Linked DNA regions of Homo sapiens: region 2 is linked to region 1. The links come from fine-mapping of genetic effects on gene expression. Tissue or cell type: whole blood. Region 1 holds a variant in brackets; the other region holds the start of a gene. All regions are shown on one strand. Distances are between the middles of the regions.

What was found. PIP is the estimated chance that this variant, and not a neighbour inherited with it, causes the effect.
Region 2: it holds the start of LAMP5, and the variant in region 1 is fine-mapped to the expression of LAMP5 in whole blood (INTERVAL, PIP 0.98).

What each region holds. Positions count from the first base shown.
Region 1 is chr20:9,107,316-9,115,425 of GRCh38, forward strand. All of the region lies in intron 2 of PLCB4 (phospholipase C beta 4), which reads left to right. Among named protein-coding and RNA genes, the nearest start is that of PLCB4, 42 kb to the left of the region's middle. The variant C/G (reference allele first, on the strand shown) is at 4,936.
Region 2 is chr20:9,509,706-9,517,815 of GRCh38, forward strand. LAMP5 (lysosomal associated membrane protein family member 5) reads left to right here and starts at 4,885. Exons shown (of 6, transcript NM_012261.4): 1 at 4,885-5,211; 2 at 5,748-5,920; 3 at 6,295-6,426; 4 at 6,551-6,656. The coding sequence starts at 5,148. It overlaps LAMP5-AS1 (LAMP5 antisense RNA 1), which reads right to left and starts at 5,293. Exons shown (of 5, transcript NR_109957.1): 1 at 5,059-5,293. RefSeq lists enhancers at 1,452-1,501, 5,820-6,404.

The DNA of each region.
Region 1 (8,110 bases):
AGATGGAACAACCAACAGTCAAAATTTTAGCATATTGTTACTGATTATCATTACAGAGAAAAGGGGGAATAGGGAGCAGAGGGTGTGTTGTCATTTTAGAAAAGATTAACAGGGAAGCCTACCCACCCCGGCCTGAGATGGTGGTCTTTGAGTCAAGGCCCTAAGTTGCTAAGGAAGGATTACATGTCATCTGTGGGGGGCGACCTCCTCAGGCTTTTGGGGGTGGGAGGTAGCAAATGCCAATGCCATAAGGCAGAGGTGAGCCTGCTGTTTCTGAAGAAGAGCAAGGAAGCCCCGGATTGAACATGAGGAGAGTGCTGGGAGATTGGGCAGGAGGGTGGCGTAGGGAGGAGGGTCTTATAGTCTTCTGTGTGGACTTCGACTCCTGCTGTAAATGGAATAGGGAGCCTTTGGAGAATTGGGACCCAAGAGTGCTGGGATGTTACTTTTGAGAAGACTCACGTTGGCTGCTGAGTTCAGAGTACACTGTGAGGGAGCACGTCCAGAAGAAGGAGAATCAGGAGGTTATGTTCCTGTGTAATCAAGGGAGATTGGGGGATATTGATTTTAACGAGGTTTGGAGGGATGGAGGTGGTTTGAAGAGGTGAGATTCTCGATCTCTTTTGAAGATAGAGTCAGTAGGATTTGATCATGGATTCCACGTAAGGTATGAGGAAGGAAGAGGTGGTGAAGGGGATTCCAAGGTTTTGTGCCTGGGCAATTGAAAAGATGGAAGTGCTATTTGCTAGAATGGGGAAGACTGCATTATGAGAGGTTTGAATGGAGAAGATCAGGAGTTGGTTTTGGATATGTAAAATCATGATTCCCATTAGGTGTCCAAAATGAAGACAGAACCAGGAGTTAGTTGGATATTAAGAGTCTGGAATTCAGATGGGACTAGGCTGAAGATGTGTAAATGTGGGAGTTGTGAGTCTGGATGAAGTCACTAGAAAAGTGAATGTGGACAAGAAGCAAAGACAAGACTCAGAGGACTGAGTCTAAGGGCACTTAGAGGGTGGGGAGATAGGGAAGAATCAGTGTTAGAGATCAGGGATAAAGTGAGCTAATGAAGTAGGAGGAAAACCAAGGGCATATGGCGTCTTAGAATCCACCTGCTGAGTGTTTCAAGGAGGGAGGATTAATCAGAGGGGCTGTCAAAGAAGATGAGGACTGAAATTTGACTGAACAGGAGGCTGGTGCAAAAGTTGGATCAGCACAACATGTCAGCTTGAATTCCTTGCTGAGGTATGAATTGTGAAGCATGGAAATGATGATGATGATAATACTAATTATTATTAAGAATTCAAAAGGAACAAGATCTTCTTTTTTTTTTTCAAGAATGCCAAATATATTCCCTACCATTAAAATTGGATATAGCAGCCAAAAAAGAAAGAAAAATGAATTAAAATTACTGAAAGACAATTTTACATGTCCTGTCAGATAGTTTAATTTAAATATAAGCTGGTTGATCCAGGTGCAGCTGCCCAAACTTGGAATAACATGGGGGAAAAGCCTAGTGAGAAAGCAAAGCCAATTGCAGGAGAGAGATACAGAGTGATGAGAGAGAGAGGAAGAGAGAAAACAAGAGAGAGAGAGAGAGAGAGAGAGAGAAAGAGAGAGAGGAGAAAGGGGTAGTTGAAGTAGGTTGCATAGGAAAAACCAGGTGCCTGGTAAACTTTATTGAGTCCCAGAAATGTAAGGTGCCCCCCACCAAAAAAAAGTGTTAGCTGCTCTTAACACTAACTTTAGCCTGAATAGACTTGAAAATGTATACATTTTTCATAGATGAATACTTTCCCTGATACTTAAACAATATAGCACGATCTTCAGAGCAGAGATGTGAATTTGTATCCCTGGGTCTAAAGTATTGAACATTTATAAAATGGTGTGGCTATAAGAGTACCAGAATTGTGCTGGAGTTTCAGTTTCTTCTTTAGGCAGTTGATTTGATTAAAACAAAAGAAAACAAAAATAAACAACCAACTCACACTTCTGGTCCTTTCTCTGGAAATTATGAATAAAAATATCAATAAAACTTTAAAATAGAATTTTAGCAGTCTCCCTATTTGAGAAGGAGAATCTCACAATTTTCACTGGTAGGCAATTCATGTGGGATTGTAATGCATGAGTGTGGGAAATAAATAAAATGATTGCTTTTTTTTTTTTCGTAATGGCCTAAAATGATAGCTTCTTGATTTAATAAACCTTTCCCCTACTCCCTACCACCACCCCTCTGCAACTTACCTACAATACACATATTCTAGTGCTTATCAAATTATAAAAGCTGGGCTCATGAAATAACAGGAGGATTTTTGTTTTCTGATATCAGTCAAAAATTGTTTGGAAGACAGGCAGAACAAGTTAAAGTGAAAGCCTAATATAGTGAAGGGAAAGATTTGTGTGCCAGCCACAGATGGACTAAGTTCGTTCTCACATAAATATTATCCTTTTTTTCTTGCCAGGACTGAACTGCAGTCATTGTCTTAATTAACTCAGGGAGTTTTCAGTTACAGCTTCAAAATCTCAGTCTTCTGGAAATTGTCATCTGGCTTTGTGTTGTCCCTAAGTAGCTGTGTGACCTGGAGGGAGGCACTTAACCAATTCAGGCCTCAGTATTGGGAGTCAAGGGTATGGAGGCCCAGTTTAGCTTTCTTCTAGCCCTGATGTTCTGTGAATCTGTTATTCAAGTTTATGGACAAGTTCCCACAGAGAAGGTTAGTAGAGTTTTTTAAAATTATTATTATTAAGCAATGGGTATTTTACTAAACAGTACTCAACTATTTTTTGCAAAGTGTTAATTTGTAGAACGTTTTGAAACTCCGCATAGAAAATGAATGCACAGGTCAAGGCTAACATAGCCTTTCAGCCATATTGTCTGGAATTGTTTTTTTTTTAAAACATATAATAAAAATTAAAGTTGAAGAAGAAATGCCAAAAATATATTTTTGATGGAAAATAACAACTTACACTGATTAGCATTTATTTCAATGAAATATGAATCTTTAAAACATAGGATTTAAACATCTTTCAATGGACATATACATTATTGTCTCAGATTCATAAAAATGTCTTGTAAGCTATCATTTCTCCTCTATTTACACTGTCTTTTGTGGGGGAAATAAAAAGACTAAACAGTGTTTAGATTATCTCTACACATTTTACATTTCTCCCAAAGGCTGCTGTGTAATGGTTGGCATCTGAGAGAATAAACAGGAAATTAGTGAGGCTGAGGTTCTCCTTCATCTTTTGCCAGGGCTGGACTCCTTGCTTCATTTATTTTCATAGGACACCAGAAATCTGAGAACAGTATTTAAGCTGACTACGTTTCTTTTATAGCTGGCCTTTTATAGATGGTCTACATGTGGCAATCTACAGATTGCCAGATCTTTCTCCTTTTCTCCAACTTAGTGTGTTGGCATTTGAAGTACCAAATGTCCTCTTCACCAATGAATAGTTTAGAGGAAGATGAACAGTGTAGCCCTTTAGGCATCGTAAAATACTGTATTTTTTTTCATAATCATGAAGGTAATATGTTTGTTATAGAAAATTTGGAAAATTAATATAATCCAAAATCCTACAACCCACAAATCACCACTTTTGATATTGTACTGTTGTTCTTTTTGGTCTTTCATCAATTTTTTTGACTACTTGTATTCATTAAGCAGGTATTCAATTTATTATTCAAACTGTTTCCAAGGTGAGCTGCTAAGAATGTTAATAGGTGTTCTGGGTCACTGGGGACATTGGGAAACTTTCCATGTCATATACGTTTGGGAAAATGCCAGATTGAACGATGTTAGACTTAGATTTGTCACAGACACCCCCCTCAGGGATGAGCTTCCTGAAAGGGCTCTATGACTCTTCTCTACTTGGGAAGGTACATTGGGCAAAGCCTGGAAGTTATTGGACAGAGAACTGGCTTTGGCCCTGCACCCACTAATGTTGTAATGTGGTGTTCTTCAGATGGCAGTGTGGATCTTATTTGGTTTTTGTTTGTTTTACGAAATTGAGATCTCATGCTTTTGTAACCTCCTTTTCCTACTTAATATATTATGAATGTTTTCTACTTTAAATCTGTTTTTCAAAGAGTTGCTTTCTCTCATTGTTATTTTTGAAAATATTCCATTTATGAAAGTTCCATTTATGAAGCTGGGGCCTAGCCCAGGTGACAGATCATTTCAGTCTGTGGGGATACTCTTGAAAGGTTCTGTCTGGGTTATAAAATGTTTATACTCATTTGAAATGTTTCCATCTTCCACCCACCCATTCTGACAAACCTTTAATTTTGGACAACTGCTGTTGAGGCTGTGGATTCACAGTTCCCAAAGCCACTGCTAATTTGTTTGCTTTGGAAAGACCTGACAAAAATAGACTTCTTTTAACACAAATGGATAATTTTCTCCCATTGATGGGCAGTTCATTTAAGAATATTTTATTTATTGTATTATAAAAATAGCCTCTTTGAGACGAATGGCCTGCTCCAAGTAACTCTCATAAAACATAGGGATTTTCTTCCATACAGAAATAATTACTTTGATTTAAAATGGGATATTGCCTTCTCAAAGTATTTTTTCCACTATGAAGTATATAGAAGTATGTATTTAATGTGTCTTAAAGTCCACTAGTGGAAGTATTACTATCACCTTTTTTCAAGGCTCATTACCTAAAATTTTTCTAAAATTAAAAGCAAAGACAAATATGCCTTACATTTAGACCAAATTAAAAAAATGGATCTTTATTTTGGATAGTCCCTTTACCTGTGCTTTACTTTCATTATCACAAAAATATCCTTAACTCTTAGCATTTCATAACAACTGTGACCAATTTTTATTATGTAGTTGGAAGTGTTAAGAATCTGAAGAGAAGGCCTTTTACAGTGATTATCTTTGTGAACAGTGTTTAGATACGTTTTGGAGACCTGTTGAAACAAATACC[C/G]TACTCTTTTTTTTTTTTTTTTTGAGATAGAGTCTTGCTCTGTTGCCCAGGCCGCAGTACAGTGGATGATCTCAGCTCACTGCAACCTCTGCCTCCTGGGTTCAAGTGGTTCTCCTGCCTCAGCCTCCCAAGTAGCTGGGATTACAGGCACGGGCCACCATGCCTGGCTAATTTTTGTATTTTTGTAGAGATGGGGTTTCACCATGTTGGCCAGGCAGGTCTCAAACTCCTGACCTCAAGTGATCTGCCCACTTCGACCTCCCAAAGTGCTGGGATTACAGGTATGAGCCACTGTGCCTGGCCCAAATACCCTACTCTTTATTGATTGTCTCACACTGATTGATAATGGTCAGTTCCTCAGGCATACCATATGTCTTTAAAATATTATAAAAAACTTTGTAAAGTCTTTTGTTTTATAAACAGCTTATCTGGGCTAGGCCTGGAGCATATTCATAGACTGTCCCTTTATGCAATTCCTGGGCAAGTGCATGGCTTTGAAAAAGACTGGAGCTGAAAAGCATAATGTGTACTTTTGGCCTGGGGATTCTTTATAGAGAGTATGCAGATTTCCCCAAGGAAAACTGATTTTGCATGCAAAAGCTGTCTCTATAATTATAACAATTTCCTCTTGCCCTTTTTAAAAAAAAATTCAGCTTCTCAAATTGGTACGTATAAAATTTTACCCTTTCCACAAAAGCAGGCCTTGCTGAAGGAACTGACTGCTGAAAAATCTCATGCCAAGTCCCTAAAGCAGCTAAAGGGAGACATTATAAGTTTTGAAATGCAGCAGTCTAGGAGGTGAAGGAATGGCGGTCCTGTGAGCCTTGACATCAATTTATGTGAGTGTGTGTGCAAGGTGCCATCCCACAGCTTATACTTAGAAGAAAAATGGACTCTTTAAAGTAAAGCTTGTTAATTGAGTTTTTCTTTTTCTGAGGGTTGTGCTTACATGGTTTAAATTGTAATAAAAATTAAAATGCTTGAAATGTTTTAGAGTCGGAGCCCTTTGCTGCTTTAGCTCATGGGCACCTCCAAGAATGCTTCCTCAGATAGCAGCACAAAACACTGGCAGTTCTCCAAGAGAACATTCTTTGAGAACCTCACTGTGATTGGGAAAGGGAACTTCACATTCTGATTGTGCAGAAGTGCCCGCGGGATGTGTAGTCTACATTCTAAGGTTGCTTGTTGTCTTCCATGGAAAGTGTTATTTTATTATATCTTTCAGATATGTTATAGGTGGGAAAATCCGAATAACTGCTTTTATCTTGGTCAGGAAATACAGGGAATTGGTGTACTGGGGAAGATCACATATTACGAGACACACTTTAATTACCTTTGTGGAGTATTACTTTTCTAATAACCAAACTTGTTAAAATGCTAAATTTTATTTGTGTTTTAATAACCCAGATTGCTAAATTGCTAAATAATCTAATATACTAAATTGCTAAAATAATGCCAAACATAATTAAACTTTCATTTGGTTCTGAACAATTTTCAGTGTCCCCAAGTCATTATCAATATTGCATTAATGTAGAAATCTAGTCATTTGGCGTCCCTATTAATAGAATGCCAAACAAATTGAGTCAGACATATATACCTAGTGTTGTGTTGCATGCAGCAGGGTAGAAAGGGAGTGCCTAATCAAGCTCACAATGTGATTTTTGCTCAAGTTGTGATGTCTGGCCAGGCGCAGTGGCTCACGCCTGTAATCCCAGCACTTTGGGAGGCTGAGGGGGGCGGATCACTTGAGATCAGAAGTTTGAGACCAACCTGGCCAACATGGTGAAACCCTGTCTCTATTAAAAATACAAAAATTAGCTGGGTGTGGTGGTGCACGCCTGTAATCCCAGCTACTCGGGAGGCTGATGCAGGAGAATTGCTTGAACCCGGGAGGCAGAGGTTGTAGTGAGCTGAGATCATGCCATTGCATTCTAGCCTGGGGAACAGAGAGAGACTTTGTCTTAAAAACCTAGAGGGACTTACTCCTGTTGGAGGCACACATTTCTAACGAGATAATTTGGGATTGACATAGGACTGTGCTTAATAAGGTGTTCAGAGGGGTGGTGCTGATGCTAGGAACGGAGAAGACAAAGTAAGATGATGGCAATGTTGAGTTAAGCTGGGCAGTGACCTGATTTGTTTATCATTTGGAGGAGAAGTCAGAAAAAAAAAGAAACAGCCTAGGTAGAGGATTAGAGATGAGTATGAATATTGAGTGTGTCAGGGAGGGTAATGATAGTCTGAGCTCACTGCATTAAGATGAAGTGTTAAACACTAATAATGTTGAAGCTTATTCCAAACCCCTAGCTTTTCCCCTTTTTCCTTCTAATTACTACTCAGCAAGGTAATGAGTGATGGCTCAAATGTGGGATTAATCAGGGGAGGAAGACTATCAAGTTCTGTTCTGTTTGTGCATCCAGGGGAGAAGCTGCTTAGAGCAGTAGCCAGTTGTTGTCAGCACTCTTCCCCCAACCCCAAATTAAAGGCAGCTTTCTGGAATCATATTATGGCACCTGGGGAGGATTAACATGGCTTCCTAAGATGCCTGAGTAACGACATTTCTTCCTGTCAAAGCACACTGCTGTAAAAGAACACACTTCCTGATGATGGCCTTGACCGACCTCACGTTTAAGGGCCTGTGCACAGTTCTGTTACCTGGAGTAGGTGATCTGTGACACCGGCCTTTGGTTGCTGTGTTTGGCCATGAATCCACCCTGATGACTATGAACTTCACAGAGTAATTGGCCAGGATATCCCTTCCCTTACTGTCATACTTGCTGAGGTGTTAGTTCTGCAAATAGTATCCTTTGTGGATCTTTGTGTTTGTTTGAGTAGGTGAAGGACTTTATTTTATATTCTTTTTCTCTAGTTACTTCCTTATTTTAATAAGTAAACCTTATTCTAAGGGTTAGTTTCTATGCTGAGAACAGTGGGTCTCTAGACTACTTAAAATTTTCCATAAATCTTACGTTATTCATTTTGTAAATCCTGAATAAATTGAAACGAGAACAGTGCTGATGGTCCTCATAGAAACTGAGGTGGAATGTGTACACATTTTAAAATTTATTTAAATGAGGTGCTTCTAGGTATAACACATATATAACCCTCCCTATATATTATTTAATAATAAAAATACCTCTACACTATAGTGCTTTATGAATAGATTTTTAAAACT
Region 2 (8,110 bases), 400 kb after region 1:
TGCCGGTCACAGTGGCTTACACCTGTAATCCCAGCACTTTGGGAGGCCGAGGCAGGCGGATCACGAGGTCAGGAGTTCGAGACCAGCCTGGCCAAAATAGTGAAACCCTGTCTCTACTAAAAATACAAAAAATTAGCCGGGCATGGTGGCAAATGCCTGTAGTTCCAGCTACTCAGGAGGCTGAGGCAGGAGAATAGCTTGAATCCAGGAGGCAGATGTTGCAGTGAGCGAAGATTGCACCGCTGCACTCTAGCCTGGGCGACAGAGTGAGACTCTCAAAAAAAAACAAAACAAAACAAAACAAAAAAAAAACAGAGAGAGAGAGAGAGTAGTAACCAAGGGAACAATGGACTCCTGTGCCATCTCAGAGATTTTGAGGGTACTGCATTATCACAGAATTCAGGTAGCAAAATATGTTAAATGAGACACAGCTAGTCTAACCTTAGGCCTATTGTGACAGATGTCATTTCTTGGAGAACAGACTCATTAAAGATTTTTTAAAATCCTCAAATGAGTTTTAATTCAACCTTACAGAAAGGTGCCCTGCCCAGAAGTTAACAAGGTTTTCCTCCCTCCCGAGATAGCAGAGTGAGTTGTGTATCACTGACCAAAAATGTAAGACTGACCAGAACAGTTAACTAATCACGGATTCAAAAGACAAAAATGATTTATTTGCTACTGAAATTTTGAGGAATGATTACCTGGCCCCTCACCATTTACTTATTTAGGGTTTGCTATAAGGATGCAGTTCTCTATATTGCCCCATGCTGAAGGCAATTCTTCTAAATGAACTCATAAATGGTATTTTTTTCAGGACTTAGTGTGAACATAGCCAATAAAAAGGCCGTTATTCTGGTGGTTTGTTTCCTCCACTGGTTACCGTTATTGCAGAAATAACCATTGTTTCATTAGAGTAGATGCAGGAGACACCAAAGAAGCACTAGGATGAGGAAAATTACACCAAGGGCATGCAGACTGAGTGCATTGGAGCCTAAACTCAATTTTCTGATTCTTTCCAAATATTCTAGGGCTTAGCAATGTATGTGCGAAATATTCTTGTGCATACATTGCTCATGCGCACACTTATTTTTGTACTCTTTGCTCTGGATCTAAACCCTTGTGGGATAGAAACTGAAAAATAATTCTTGTGCATACATTTATTTTTCAGTTTCTGTCCCACAAGAGTTTAGATCCTAGAAAGGGTTGCGAAGGTCTTTGAAGGCAATGACTAAATGAATTAATTGTTCTATGATAAGCTGAACACAAGAAAAGTTTTGGTGAGTAGAAAGTCTGGCTTAACAGCTGCATGCATCTTGTTTGTTTAAATTATTTCTGCTTCTGTTATTCGGGTGTGCGTCCGTTGTCTGTGTGTGGGTTGCAGAGGGATGGCTTGGTGGCTGTGGGAACAACAGAGCAAGGAGTACATTTTTACACTTTACTGTAAAGTGAACTGAAACCTCAATAAACCAAATTTCAGCTGCAACAAAGCCCAGCCTTTTCCTTTTGAAGCTATAAATACGCTTTTCTTATTAGTATTGTTCACTAATTTTCATAGTTTTGTTTCTTGATTCTACAAATACAAGTCAATTGCTTGCACAACCAAGTATGAAAAGATGCCCCTAACAACTTAAAAAGTTTAATTTTATTTAGAATAAATTTTGCATAGGCCATTCTTTTGCATATGCCATATGTGGGTAAATTATCAAATACGGAAATGAAATAGGGGTTCTATAGTACATAAGGCATTGTTGATTTACGGCCTAATTTGCTTTTTATTGCAAATGGATAAATATGGATGGATGAAGAGTTACATCTTTGCATTGATTCCCTATTCAATAGATATTTCTTCCATCCGTATCCTTCCTTCCACCCTACATCAGTTTGTCAACTTCTTTCAAGACTCACCTTCTCCAAGAGACCTTTTTTCATCAATTTCAACCACTCTCCCACCTGGGATGCCTGTCTTACTTTTTTTTCCCCCTGAACATTTATGCAGACACTGTGCTAGGCTAACTGGAATCTTTATGTAAATTCTTCTCATCCAAATTGAAAGTTCTATGCAAGGGCCTCTTCTTGCCCTTTTATAAAACAGCAACCACTCAATGGCATGAGATTCATAAAGGCTAATTCAGTAAGTATCCATATGAATTGAAAAACAGCCTTTGAAGGACCTAGAAGATCTAGAGGAGATCCCAAATCCAGTGTGTTTAGGTCACACTGCACCCTAACAGTTTCTACTGACCACCAGCAGCAATAATAAAAATTGACACAGTTACCACCCACACAGGTGTACATATTTATGTCAATTTCTCCTACCATCTTTTAGACTTGAGAAATGAAAAGTAGAGCAAATTCTGGGGAACATTGTTAATATATTAAAATGCAATTTAATGGCAAATTTTGCTCCTTGATCACTTCTTTGCTTATTTTAGAGAACCAAAGAGTTTTTTTCCAGAATGATTAGAAAGATATTTAATTAATGTAGGTGAAAGTTGTAGGTATAATGACCTAACTCCTATTGCAATGTATCACAGTGGATAAGATGATAAATTAATGGGCATTTGTTAGCCATGTTTAAGATTAAATATTAAAAAAGTCATTAAACTGATTGTGCTTTGAAAATAATCCCCCCAGAAAAAAAGAGTTAAAATTGCTTTCTTTCTTCTTTCAACCCATTTGAGTACTCTAGGGTACACTCTCCAGTGTCAACAAAGAGATCATTTATATCAGGTATAATTTTCAAAGGAACAACCATCTCATTTGTAAATCAACTACTACATTTTAAGATCAATGACCAATGCTACTACTCACCTAATCTTTTATTATTAAGGCAGATAATCATGAATTAATTCAGTTGATCTTTTAACAACTTATATAGTGAAGATATCTGCAATAACATACTGCAAGAGAAATTGTCAAAATCTTTTATAGGTGTCTCTCCTACTTGTGTAATGATAAATATCTTTTGGTTTTCAAAGCATCAAGCATACTGGAAGTAGTAAGTATTCGGTTAATGTTTATGGATCTATTTGTACTTTGTTTATTTATACTCATTGGCCCATTTGGTTTAACTAGCCATCCCCTGAGTTATTTTCCCAATTTTTCAGATGAGAACAAATAAAATCTTCAGAAGGTCACAAAAATAATAAGTAGTGAATCCTGGACTGAAATCTACTCATTTCTGTCCTCATAAAATACTGGAGAGAGAGAGAGAGAGAGAGAATAAATACTTTATTACATGTCTCATTGTTTTCCAGTTTTACAGTACTACAGGAAAATAAGTGTTTAATAATAATTGCTAACATGAAAAAATGTAACACATACAAATGTTATCTCTTCCACTTTCAACTGATGAGAACTGACGTTTTATCAATCTTCTGTATAAAATCATTTCTGTTAAGTTCTGTAAAATTTGCATCAATTCTTCTATATATAATCATCTTTGTAAAGTTCTTGAGAAATGTTTGGATGAAATACTGAACTACAAACATAAAAGTCAAGATGTCAAAATATAATGTCAATTTTAATATTACTTTATACTTTGAATTGCTAGTGATCTAATGATTGATATAGGAATATGTTTGAAAGCCAAAAACATTATATAGATACTTTGTGGCAGATATGTCAGAATGTGATTATACTTAAAACAGCATTCTATAAATTTGAAGAATGTGAATTAATGATAGAGATTTCAGATTTCAGATTATTATTTGATATTGAATATAGATTTTTATGGAAGTCAAAATATGGAGTAAAAATATTATATAAGGAGAAATGAAGATAATCTCACAGAGTTAAAGCATGTGATTTTTGTATTTTAATTCTAACTGACCATGTGACATTTGGGAAGGTCATTTAATTTATTTGAGCCTCAGTTTTGGGGTATGTAAAACCACAGTAACTCATATCTTTCCTTGCCTACCCTCTAAGATTGGGGAGAATCAAATTAGATAATGCAGGTGAAATACTTTGCAATTTTCCCTTTAATATGACATTGTTTTATAACATTATATTACTGATGCAACATTTATTTGCATTATGAAATATCTTCTAAGGAATAAAATATTTGGACATCACTACAATTGATGAGGACTGCATGTGTATTTTTGAAAGCTGTATTCTGATTTACAGAGCAAAAATAAAAAATAAGCAAGCTACCAAATATGTAAATACAGGAATTAGCCCAGTAGTATTTGTTCTTCTGTTCCACTACAGGCTTTAGAGTAATATCAGTGTGTGTTTTTCTTACATAACTATGTGACATTACTTAGGGCATAATTCTAAAATTTCTGTCCTAGGAGACACTAGATAACTCTCAAAAACTTCTGATTTGCTTGCATCCCTTTTTGGCAGAGTGGTCACAGTATAATGCGGGAGGGTAGGTGACCCCAGAGTTCAGAGTCCTCATGCACCCGGGAGCAAAATTCACAGGAAAATAAGCCCACATGGAGCTACTGCATTGTCTGATGGCCTCGTTCGAGGAGGCGTCAATTTAACTTTAAACCCATGAGCTCATTGAGAGCAGGGGAGAGAAGGGGATGTCTCCAAATTCAGGAAACTGTTGCCATAGCATTTTCCCTTCTCTATTCCTGCATAGCCCTCCTCCCCCGAATCAGCAACAATTTTTGCTCCACCGTTTTCTTTCGGGAACCAGATGCGTTTTCAGAAGACAGTACTCCAGTGATAAGGTATCTACACCACTTAATAACTGTACCTGGTAAGGAGATTTAATAAGGCTGAGGGTGGTATTAAGTTTCTCAGAACAGACTCATCTTTGCGGATGCAGTTGCAGAACAGGAAACAGACCCAGGGAGAAGTTTAGTCCCCCCAGATCTCATTGGCCCTCCGCACAAGCCAAGCCACAGCCACTCCTGCCACACAATCGGATTGCTTTCAGCACTCGCAGCCGTGGACCGCCGTGCGGTCCTTTCCTCCGCAGTGAGCCGATTTGCTCTGCCAGCAGCTGTCGGTGCCGCGCTCGACACCGAGTCCTAGCTAGGCGCTCACAGAATACGCGCTCCCTCCCTCCCCCTTCTCTGTCCCCCGCCTCTCGCTCACCCCGGCCCACTCCAGCGGCGACTTTGAGGGATTCCCTCTCTGGCGGCCTCTGCAGCAGCACAGCCGGCCTCATTCGGGGCACTGCGAGTATGGATCTCCAAGGAAGAGGGGTCCCCAGCATCGACAGACTTCGAGTTCTCCTGATGTTGTTCCGTGAGTAGCGATTTGGCGACTGGGAGAGAGGACGGGCACTCTTTGCAGAGAACAGAGCCGGCAAAGTAAAGTCAATTAGCTTGAGATAAAAAATATGGCCCTTAATGTTTTGCGGTGTTTTTTCTTTTTTTCTTTTAGGGGAGGAGGGAGGGCCTTCCTCGCCGGTGGCAGGGAATTCCCCTGAGAGCCATACACCTCTGTGGCATATTCCAGACAGAGCCTAGACAGGCCAGCTTCGTGAGGTCAGAGCATTGGCAAGAAATATTTACTTTAAAATCCCAAGATGTAGAAAACAGCCAGCTATATTACAAACAAAGTCAGGATTTTTAATTTTTTTAACTGTATTTTCATTATAAATTAACAGCGAAGGAATGAGGCTTGTTAGACCCGGGTTAGAGAAACGGCTCGTAGAGCGCACAGCTGCTGGCAGAGAACTTTGTCACTCCAAAGCCTGCAGAGCACTGTCTCCCCACCCTAGCGCCCGAGACGCGTGGGCTGAGCCCTGAACTGATGGAATTGTTTTGTTTGTTCCGCAGATACAATGGCTCAAATCATGGCAGAACAAGAAGTGGAAAATCTCTCAGGCCTTTCCACTAACCCTGAAAAAGATATATTTGTGGTGCGGGAAAATGGGACGACGTGTCTCATGGCAGAGTTTGCAGCCAAATTTATTGTACCTTATGATGTGTGGGCCAGCAACTACGTAGATGTAAGGAATCTTTCCCCCCCCTCAGCTTGCTCCTAGGGCTCCAGGGCGAAGGGCACCCTTCCTCAAGGCTCTTCGAAGACCTGGGTTGCCCGCCTTCTTTCCCACACCCCGGCAGGCTGCTCCCGAATGCTGCATGGGGATTCCAGCTTGTAATGCCTTCTGTTCCCCTGCCTGCTTTGAAAGTAAACCCCCTTCTCTCCGCTTCCCTATCGGGGCTGCACGTAGAGCATCTAACCGCATGTTCCCGGAACCTGGGATGCGCGCGCGCAAAGGAGCGCCCAAGCGTGCAACCCAGAGTTTGGACGCGCCGCCCTTTACAGCCCCCGCCCCGGGGCCGGGCGAGCTGAGGGGGCGCGGGGCGTCTGTGTTCCCAGCTGATCACAGAACAGGCCGATATCGCATTGACCCGGGGAGCTGAGGTGAAGGGCCGCTGTGGCCACAGCCAGTCGGAGCTGCAAGTGTTCTGGGTGGATCGCGCATATGCACTCAAAATGCTCTTTGTAAAGGTAACTCCGAGCCCAGCGGGCAGAGGGGCCGCAGGCTCCGCGTGGGTGTGGGAAGTGGCGGCCCCTAGGTTTAAGAACCCAGACGCTGCGGGGACGATTGAAGCGCACCTCCCCGGCTCAACAGGAAAGCCACAACATGTCCAAGGGACCTGAGGCGACTTGGAGGCTGAGCAAAGTGCAGTTTGTCTACGACTCCTCGGAGAAAACCCACTTCAAAGACGCAGTCAGTGGTGAGTGGAGGCTGGCATGGCTGGGGAGGGAGCCTGGGAACTCGCAGAACAGGCTTGGAGAGAGAATTCCTCAAGGTTTTGGAAACCGTCCCACGCTTTGAGGTCCCAGGCCAAGTCTTCCCTCGGCTTGCTCTTTAGGGCGGAAGAGGCGGGAGCGCCCATGAGTCTTCTGGGTCTCAGGCCTTGTAGATCCGCCAGGAACCGCAGGCGTGGGGACCCAAACGTCACCCGTGGCCTGATCCTAGATAAGAAGTCCCTTGAAGGCCTGTCGTTCCCTGGTGCTTCAAAACGACCTCTTATGATTTGGCCTTTGAAGGACCACGGAGAAGGGCAAAGCTGCATTTTAATTTTCTTCCGCATCCTGGTTTTGTTTCTTATGCGCTAAAACTGCAAGGGGGCAGTGCGACTTTCCTTTTCAGTCAGGATGTGATGGCCTTCAGTGTCTTTTTGCGCATGGCAGCATGGCTCGCACGGGATATTCAGTCATCGACTGCAGCTACCTGACAGTGGATTCTGCACCATGTATAATTTACTAGCGTTTCTGGCCCATCCCTCCGACAACTCAGCCAGATCCTCCTCGGCAAAACGAGCGTTCATCCCCCAAATAACAATATTCCTATCTGCAGACACCGTCAAAGACCACATTTAAATTTATTTTATTCTTTATAAGTTGTCTATTTCACTCATAATGAGGCCCTTCATCACCCAGGCACCTGAGTTGGGAAAGGATTTTTATTGAATACATAAAAATACATGTGTCATCTTTCCCTTTTCACCCCTTTTTGTTATCACAGTAAAAGGAGGATTTTTTCTTTTTCATCAAAGTTTAGATGCAAGATGTCCCCCAGTTAAATTAGACCAAAAAGGAAAAAGGAAAAATCAAACTTAGGTCAGAAAAAGAGCAATGGGAGGCAGACCTTCAGAGGGGATGTATGTGTGTAAGGACAAGCATCCAGAGGACCAGCAATCTGTCCGGCTTTGTTGAGGAAGATGTTTTATTCTTTGCCAGGCCCGTGTGAAATGTGGAAAACCAAGTCACTGTTCCTTCTGTGTCTTTGGAATCTCCATTATTAGGGATTTTTTTTTTCTTTTTTGAAGTGCGGTCTCACTCTGTCCACCAGGGTGGAGGGCAGTGGCACCACCATAGATCACCACAGCCTGGAGTAAGCTACTGGGCTCAAGAGATTCTCCCACCCCAGTTTCCCCAGTAGCTGGGACTACAGGCATGTGTCACCATGCCAGACTAATTTTGTAAATGTATGTGTGTGTGTGTGTATTTGTAGAGACAGAGTCTCACTATGTTGCTCAGGCTGGTCTAGAAATCTTGGGCTCAAACGATCCTCCCACCTTGACCTCTGAAAGTTTTGGGATTACAGGCAGGATCCACCATGCCCAGCCTAGGTTTTATACAGTAACAAGGGTTGGGTTTTTAAGTATCATTCTCCTCTTCAAAA